Linked DNA regions of Homo sapiens: region 2 is linked to region 1. Evidence: fine-mapped expression QTL. A gene starts in region 1. The other region holds a variant in brackets. All regions are shown on one strand. Distances are from middle to middle.

Region 1 (4,392 bases):
AGCCACCTTGTCGGTGCAACCAAAATAGCTCTCGCAGCTGGAGAGCTGTCTATCAGCAATAGTTCTGACAGATATCAGATTTGGCATGCAGCAGGAAGGCTAGAAATGGTCCCACAGAAGGCGGTTTGGTGGGAGTATGACCAGCTAAGGAGCAAGGCAGGGGGAGCACTCAGAAAACAGTGCTCCTGTTTTCACAAGGAAAACTACAGGCATTTCGGGAAATGACAAATAGTCTTGAGGGAGAGGACAGCCAAAGAGATGGTTATTGACAAGTCTCTATTTCCACGATTAGTTCTATAGGATTTTTGAAAGGGCAATGATTAGATAGAGACAAGATGCAGGAAACTGGCCGGTTTCCGTTCGTGAAAGGAAGCAAATACACTTACATGCGTAGGATTTTTATCTCCTCTAGTGGTGGGGTGGGGCCTTTGAGGCGATAGCCTATTACTGAATAATACCGCTTCAGAAACAAAGATGAGCTTCCCTTATAGCGCGTTTTACCCGTAAGATTAGGATTTTCATTAAATGTGTTGCTCTCCCTTACAGTGGTTTTCAAAACATTCCCAATCTTCCATTTGATGGAGTGAATCGCCTTTTAAGGATGCTGATTACCAGCGATGAGGTAACAAGTGTCCCCCTCTCTTTTTAGCTAGAGATACAAGATTCCATTCTCCTCTGTTGTCCTAACAAAAGTGAAGCCATTTTGTGCTCAGAGGCAACTCTCCTGACCCCTAGTCTGGGCCAGAAAAACCTGAGGAGCTAAATAAGTAAAAGAAAGCTAGCTTACCTAGAGTAAAGGTGGAAAACATGGAAACTCAGAGGGAAGACTCTAGTAAAGGATCTAGAGAATCATCTGAACCTTAAATAAAGGGCAATAATTAGAGAGAAATTTTGGAACAAGTCTCCACCACTCCCTTCCAGTCCCTGTCATTTTTGTCATTTTCATCCTTGGTCAAATGACTGATACTTCTGGTGTGGCAATTTAGAACAGTGATAGTGGATGAAAAAGTAGAAAAGATGGAAAAAATAAATGATGACAATTTTAAGGACAGTAACTAAAGTTTCTTTCTTCCATATGGATATGCAATTGAAGTGTATTAAAGGAAAAGATCAAAGGTTACAGCCAACTAATCAATGGATTATTGATCAATAACTGAAAATCTATCAATGTGAAGTATACAAAATATGCAGCTTTTCCCCTTGCCCTGCTCTATACTCAGAATTAGGCATCACTGATGTCTACTTGATTTCTCCTCTTGAATGTCTCCAAGGCAACCAAACTCATATGTTTTCTTTGCAAACCTGTTCCTTTTCTGGTTTCCTTATCTCGGTGGATAACTTCATCAGCCAGTTGTGCAAACCAGAAATCCAGGAGTTATTTGTTTCTCCTAGCCTTCCACCATCATATCCAATCCATCAGAGTCCTTCAATTTTACTTCCTATATCTATCTCAAACAGATCCATTTCTCTTTGGCTCTGCCACCACCCTAACTCATCATCTCTCCCCTAAACAATTACTGCTCCAAAGGGCATCCACTCCATCCTTTGTCAAATGCATTCTCCACACTGCACTACTTTATTCAACAAATATTTTTAAGGAACCTACTTTGTACTGTAGTGAATAAGACAGACGAGGAATTTGTGGAAATAGAAGATAAACATCAGGCAGTCAAAAGCACTACGAGGACAATCAAAGTCGGGTGATGAAATAGAGAGTGGCTAAATGACTATTCTAGACTGTGTTCAAACACAAGAAATCGGTGGCAGTTTTAACAAGGGGTATTAGTTTTGACACAGGAAAATGAAGGAAGTCCGCTGGGACGATGGTATCTGCTCCTAGCATATAAGGAGTGTGTTTCTGATACTGGCCAATAATAAAAAGGAGGTTAAAATGTACATGAACATTCAATCTAGGGCTGTTTGTCTCCAATTACCTCTGCTTAAACATAGCACTTACTACCTATATGGAAGTATCTTATTTTTGTTAACTTCTGTATGTCTCCCTTCTTTAGAATGTAAGCTCCATGAACATGCGGGCCATAACTGTCTTGATCTCTGCAGTAACTACAGTGCCTAAGAGAACTGAGCCTGGCATTACGGTAGGCATGCAAATAAGTATTTGTTGCATTAACGCACAAATTGCTGAGTGAAGCAGGAGAGTAGACAGAGAATATAACGGATTGGGTTTGGGGGCTGAGGAAGTCTCTGCTGAGCTGTCAAGGTCATTTACTTCCCCTTGCAAGGTTAACTGGGTTATAAAATCCCGGCCACGCTTTAGCACCAAGCATCAAGCGCTCACACTCTAACTTATACACACGCTCACAGCCACAAACCTCTCCAACTCCCCGCTAGGAGGAGTCACACCTCCCCACCCAGAAACCCTCCCACCCTCTCCTCTATTTCTCCTTCCCTCCCCTCTCCGCGGGGTTCCGGCAGGCTTCGAATCACAATGCTCGCCGGGAATAGTAGTCTTCCGGTCCGAGCCTATGGCGTTTTTAATGCATTTCCAGAACTACGCTTCCCAGGGAGCCTCGCGGCATAGTGAGGCTGAGTCACCTGACCAAGACCCTGGAGTTACAATGGCGGCGCCCATGCTGCGCTGGGGCTGCCGTGGAAGACGTTGGGCTTTCGCCCGGGTTGACGGTGGTTCTTGCCACCGAAGAGGGGCTCCGACTGGGTCCACATCCAACCAGATTAGGGGAGAGAGCTCAGTGGCTCAGCAGCCCCTCCACACGGCCCAGAAGACGAGGAAAGGGTATTCTGTTTCATACATTTCTGCCCACCTAACTGTGAGGTGGAACTGCAGGACTGGGGAAATAATGGCAATTACGGCCCAGCTTCTAGACGTTTTGGCTGACGGGAGGGCGTTGAGTTATAACCTGGAGCCCCGAAACCTAAATAAAAGCACAAACAGACTTTCTATCAACTCCGCCCCCATATATAAACCACTGTTTTCAAATAGATGTAGTTGGGGAATTCGCGAGTGTAAAATAGCAAATATTTTCTTGAAGGGTGCACAGACAGAAGAGTGGATTCGGTCATCTTACTAATAGCACTAGCAGTGGGGACGGTGACACGAGAAGCGGGATCATATTTAGCTGATTTTATTTAGCGCTAGTATGGGCTGGCAGCGTTCTAAAGGTAGAAAGGGAGCCTTTACCTACAAGCTCTTGGTAGTGGTGGGTTATTGTCATTAGTCAGAAAACACTAGCTATCTGTGCAGGCGTTTTATGTTGGAATATGTGTGACTAGACCTAGGAGGACGCAGCCAAAAGAAGAGATACTCCCCCTGGTTATATGGAGAGTTTTGCTTATTTGGCCAGATATCCCCTGAACAGCTGTTTATGCTTCATTATGTAAGAATTAAATAGTTTCTCTTTAAATACAGAAACATATGGCAAGTTTCTAATATTTTGTTTATTCTTTGAGACTAGTTGGCATTATTTTTACTTTCAGTTGGAGGAACAGAGGGAAATTGTCCAGAAAGAAGTATTCAGTTTTGTATTCTTTTCGTGAATTAGATTGTTTCCTTGTGAATGGAAAGTACATTTTTTCTCTCATGTAATGGAAATGCAAAAATACTTTGAATGGTGCTTTACTGCATGCAGAATTTCTAATGAGTTCCTACTTTAATTCCCCTCCCTTATGGGCTGTGTTTCCAAACTTTAAAAAGAAGGACTTATTCTTGCAGTACTTCAGATATAGAACTTTATATGTTGAAATGATTGAAACAAAACAAAACGATGTAAAATATGTATATATATATATATGTATATACACAAAATTACTTGGGAGAAGAGCAGGATAGGAACATACATGGATTTCATAGGGAATAAGCACATTTATAAGGACCTGGAGAGGCCTATGTACAGACCCAACAGAGTAGGACTGACCAGATAAGAGAGATTATTATAGCATTTAACAGCTTCTTAGATTTGATAGCAAATAAGCATTAAAAAAGTAACCTGAAATTAGGTCTCAGGAATTGAAAGTGATTTGGGGGACCAAAAATATGCCGCATCAGATGGTTTAGTGTGGTGGAGTTTTGCAAAATTTTTTTAAGAGTATCATTTAGTGGTGATTTATTGTATCTGTGTCTCTCTGGTTATTATACATGCAAACCAAAACATGGTTGAGAATTTCCTTTTTAAATAAGAGACGTGGAACTATTTATCATTATTTCTCTAGTAGTAGAATGTTGCCATTTATGTTAATTCTAGATAATGTGGGAAAGATCAGCTTTCATCATTTACTGAGTGATTACTTGATAAGTTACAGTTAATTTGTTAAATGCCGCTTTTCACTGAAGTCAGCCAAGCAGTTGTCACCTGATACCCATTTCTAAATTGTTTTAAGACGCCAAATTGTTCCTTTCTCTATAGCCTTCATGTT
Region 2 (4,392 bases), 88 kb after region 1:
GCTTTCCTTCAGGATACTTCAAAAATAGCTTTAGCTAGAAACAGTTGGGTGGCAACTAAGAGGGTGTGTAAATTCAGTCCTCAGGGAACCAAAGGCCGAGTCTCTGCCCCATGTGTCAGAGCCGGCTCCAGTGTCTGTGTGTGATGGGGAGTTCCCAGCTTGCATTACCCAGTACTCCTGGTCGGCCATTTATTAACACAGAGGACCAGCACTGTGCTAGAAATTCCTTGTTACATCTGTTTGTCTTGGGTAGGCAGCAGCAGGGCCTGGGAGCTGCGCTCCTGGCTGGAAACAGTTGCACTTGGATATCACTTCTCAGGGTGGGATTAAACACAGACAAAAGCTGAGGATTTATGCTGCAGCACAGGGCTCGGCAGCCACAGAGGCCACTCTGTGAGCGTCAAGAGGGCCAGGAGCAGGAGAGTCTGGCCTGGAGACAGGGCCGCTCCACTACCACCCAGTGGCTCCCACCCTCCTGGACTCCAGCCAGGAGTGCACAATCCTCGTCTTAAATAGGATTGAGCAAAGGATGGGACAACCGGCGTCTGTTGTATAAGCCTAGGGGACTGGGGACTGGGGGCCTCGACTGTCATGGCCACTGCACTAATTTGTGGAGTTAACTAACATTATGTATTCTAACTCTGGGAGGAAAGGACATTTCAGCCACCGGGCTCCCATGTGTTCCAGGAGGCTGCTGAATGATGTTTCTCTAGCGGCACTGCTTGGTACCACCCCGCCTGGCCCTCCTTCTCGGGGAGCAGCCAGCCTCTTCGTTTGAAGGCATCTGTCCTAGAGGTGCACTGCTTCTCCTTCTGAATGGTGTGATTGGAAGTGATCCCCAAGCACTCTGCCACTCTTCCGCTTATTTTGGCCCAGGCAAATCCAGCCAACATTCGAGCTGTGGGTCCCGTCAGAAAGAGGCTGGCTCACTGGCCAGCCTGCTCAGGGTCTGCCGTGTGCTTCCCACCGCAGCAGCTACCACAGGCGCTGAGAAATCGCTCCCTGGTCTGTGTCTGCAGACGCAGACCCAGGAGGGGCCCCGCCTACTTCCAGGCACAGGCTGCTCGTCCGCCTGGTTTTCCTGGAGGGAACTGCTGCGTAGATTTTTCACGAGCAAGTCCTTACAGGTGGTTTCTGTTTTGAGCCAGGTTTTCAGCTAGGAGCTTTTTTGGGAGTCTGTGCAGATGAACAAAATCAACACTGGTCAAAGTCTAGATATCTACGAGGAGGGGATAAATTATGATAAATACATCTGATGGATACTAGCTAGATCTTTTTATTAAGAAAGTACTTCTGTGCTAAATGAAAGAAAGCAGGACACAAACTGAATATACGTTATGATCCCAAGTATGTTACAAAACAGAAAGAAAAAGATGGGAAGAAAAAACACCAAAATATTAACATTGGTTTTCTTGAGAAAATGGGAATTCCGGTGATCTCTTTTGATCTCTCCTGTATTTCCTTATATTTTCTGCAGTGAATGTGTATTAACTTTTATTATTAGAAAATGATTTTTAAAATTTAAGTCCTAGTTCAAAAAATAAACGTGTCAGAGAAAGGGGGCAGATGGACTCCTCCGACTTACAGGGCAGCTCCATGGAACGCCATCCAGGTCCCCAGTGCTTCTGCTGGCAGCACTCCACTGATAAGCATGTTGAGAGTGAGGAAGTTTCTTCCCGCTTCTGTGCCCCCTTTCTCCCAATGGTTTCCTCATTGTCAGGCCACGTACATA[T/C]CTGCTGAATTGAGTTGGAGGCACGTGCATTCTGTATTTTTCTAAGAGTAGGGCCAGGCTTTTCCTGAGCAGTCGGGCAGCGGCAGAGGGGTGCCCTGTAGGGAGCTTACCCAGGACCTGCCAAGCACACCTCCTTGGCCACAGTCACAGCGCACGTTCTGAGGCACCAGGCTGAAGGCGCAGTGCCTGTCCCAGCAGTGATAAGTATTTGTGGTTTGTTTTTGAATCAGACTGGGGAAGACTTTGAGCCCTGCTGAGACTCAGAGCATCTCCCTTTTATTTGCTTTGCTGTTCGTGCTAATTATGGAAGAGCTCTGTTTTTCCAGGAGGAATGGCTCCTGGTTGGCCCGTTCTCGGCCACCAAGGTAACAGGGAAAGTTGGGTGTTCAGTCATGACTGTGGACTGGACGGAGGTGGCACCGGTGGGAGACCAACAGAGGAAGCCCTCCTCCCGGCTCCCAATTCTGGCTTTCGCTAGAAGACAAGAGAAATGAGGAAAACAGCTACCCTAGGAAATAGCCTTCCTTGAAAATGGTTTCCTTTTTCTCAGGTTTGATGAATTTGGGGATTTGTTGTTGTCATTTTTTAAGTAAAAAAAAAATGCCCCAAACATTAGCGTTCATTATCCTAGTCTGATTTGGGTCCGGCTCTACCTGTAGGAGATGAATGTGGTAGGCCAGGGGGCCCCTGTGGATTCTAATTTATGTTTTCAGTTGTTTGCCATTTTGTATCTTCATTACGGGGCTACTTTCCTGCCTCCCTAAAGTCATCTTTCCCAGCATGCTGTTTCTGGACTTTATTTAGTACCGTGGTTACCTCCTGCAGGCTGTGTGGCCCCATCCTTCACCAAAATGTCACCTCAATTAATTCGGCGGCCATGAGACAGATCCATCAGTGGCCCGCCGACTCCCGTCAGCAGGCGCCCATGAGTGATGGGCACCTCCACGCCTCCCGCGGCCCCCCCCCGCCATGTGGAGTCAGCCGGGCAGGACTCACCATCCCTCTGGGCACGAGGGCATCTGGCTGGCCCGAGTCCTCTCACACCTTATGCTGAGGGAGACTTCAGCCTCAGGAGGAGACCCCAGGTGCATTCACTCCACCTAGCTGGCCTTGTTCCCCAGCCCTGCACTCAGGGATGCCTCAGGAGAGCCAACGCTCTGGCAGGGCAGCCAGGTGCCCTTTCCCTTTGGGCCAGGCCCAGGCAGTGGGGACTTAATTGAATCTGCTCATTCCCACCCCAGCTCCACACAGCACAGCACTGCAAATGGAGCTGGCAGAAGAGCTGACTTCTCATTTCTCTTTCCTCTCCCTTCTCTGGTCCATAGGTGTTTGAGGAACTGTGGAAGAGGGAAGGCAAGACTCCAGGGCAGATTGTTTCAGAAAAGCAGCTTGAACTGATGCAGGACCAGGGGGCACTGGAGCAGCTCTGCCACTCTGTGATGGAGGCCCATCCTCAAGTGGTGACTATCTCGGGCAGGGGAGAGGGCCAGAGCCAGCCCCAGGACATGCCCAAGAGCCTCGCCATCGCTCCCTGTGGCAGCCCAGAGGCTCTTCCTAAGAATGGCTGACCCAGTTTCATCAATAATTCCCTCACTGTCATCTTTTTAGTTAAGGTCAGAAGAGATGAAATAGGTGGATATTGGAAAAACACAACTTCTTTTCCTATAAGAAGGATGCCACCCCTGGAGTTTACTCTCCATGGAGGTGTAGTTTAAAAGGGTGTCAGCAAGCTCACGAAATCCAAGCTGTGACCTCCCAGGTGTGTCGCCCTCTCCCAGGGTTGGCATTTCGAATCTGTTGTGGTTAGCGCTACTTCCTAAGGACCTCCCAGTAAAGAACCAGCAGGTGTGCCGGCAGAGCAGGGAGAGTACAGGAACTTCAGCTTCATGCTTCTAAGAGGTGGGAAGAAAGGCAGAAGGGAAAAGTATTCATAAATTGTGGAGAAAATCCCTGACAGGAGCATGACTGAAAACCAGGTCATTTTGTGTTCTTAGCACAGCACAAGACATAAAAGCTAAAACGAGTGGCATCCCTCCCTCCCCAAGTCTAATCATATTGTCTAGAGATATTTTTTCAGTGGGGAAAAAAATTGTCGGCATCTTTTTCAGAATAATACCCACCCACCCATCAGCTTGCCGGGGACACTCACAGCTCTGTAAAGAGCTCTCGATAAGGAAAATGAGCCTGCACTGGGCCTCCACAGCCTCGTCTTCCTGCCTCATCTGTGGTGACTGATAAAGACGTGCCAGTAGTTTCAGGCTTGTTCTGTGGCACTTGAGTGCAGATCCTCATGTCATTGCCCTTGGAGACGCTGCAGAGCAGGAGGTCACGTGGTGGCCCTAAGAGTCAGTGGCTATCTGATAGGAATTCAGCACCTCCTGGCTTCCTCACTCCCCCTGCCCACACAGCACACTCCCCCCGACCCAGCGCTCTGGAAGACTCGGCCAGTGTGTAGATCTGCTTTCTGATAAAGGAATCTTCTTGGTGGGGAGCAGGGGGAGAAGGAAAGCCACACATTTCAGCTGAACATCACTGAGAATCAGAGAGGTGTCCTCACTGATTAGACGCAGTGATTCATCATCTCAGAGAGATTATCCCTCCCCAGACTCAGTGTCCTCGGTCATTGTGGCGTCGCAGAGGGGAGGGCCCTGGCTCCCACG

Direction of the effects. Positions count from the first base shown, and alleles are read on the strand shown. Sizes are in standard deviations (SD) of each study's normalised expression.
With allele C in place of T in region 2, the expression in lymphoblastoid cells of the gene that starts at base 2,555 in region 1 is higher (moderate effect, 0.47 SD a copy in GEUVADIS).

What was found. PIP is the estimated chance that this variant, and not a neighbour inherited with it, causes the effect.
Region 2: its variant is the best candidate, but not a certain one, in a credible set for the expression of GATB in lymphoblastoid cells (GEUVADIS, PIP 0.64).

What each region holds. Positions count from the first base shown.
Region 1 is chr4:151,759,170-151,763,561 of GRCh38, reverse strand. GATB (glutamyl-tRNA amidotransferase subunit B) reads left to right here and starts at 2,555. Exons shown (of 13, transcript NM_004564.3): 1 at 2,555-2,755. The coding sequence starts at 2,580. RefSeq lists an enhancer at 2,560-2,839.
Region 2 is chr4:151,671,562-151,675,953 of GRCh38, reverse strand. GATB (glutamyl-tRNA amidotransferase subunit B) reads left to right here. Exons shown (of 13, transcript NM_004564.3): 12 at 3,058-3,192. It overlaps LOC107986197 (a long non-coding RNA gene), which reads right to left and starts at 4,365. Exons shown (of 2, transcript XR_001741447.3): 1 at 1-4,365. RefSeq lists an enhancer at 2,608-3,407. The variant T/C (reference allele first, on the strand shown) is at 1,733.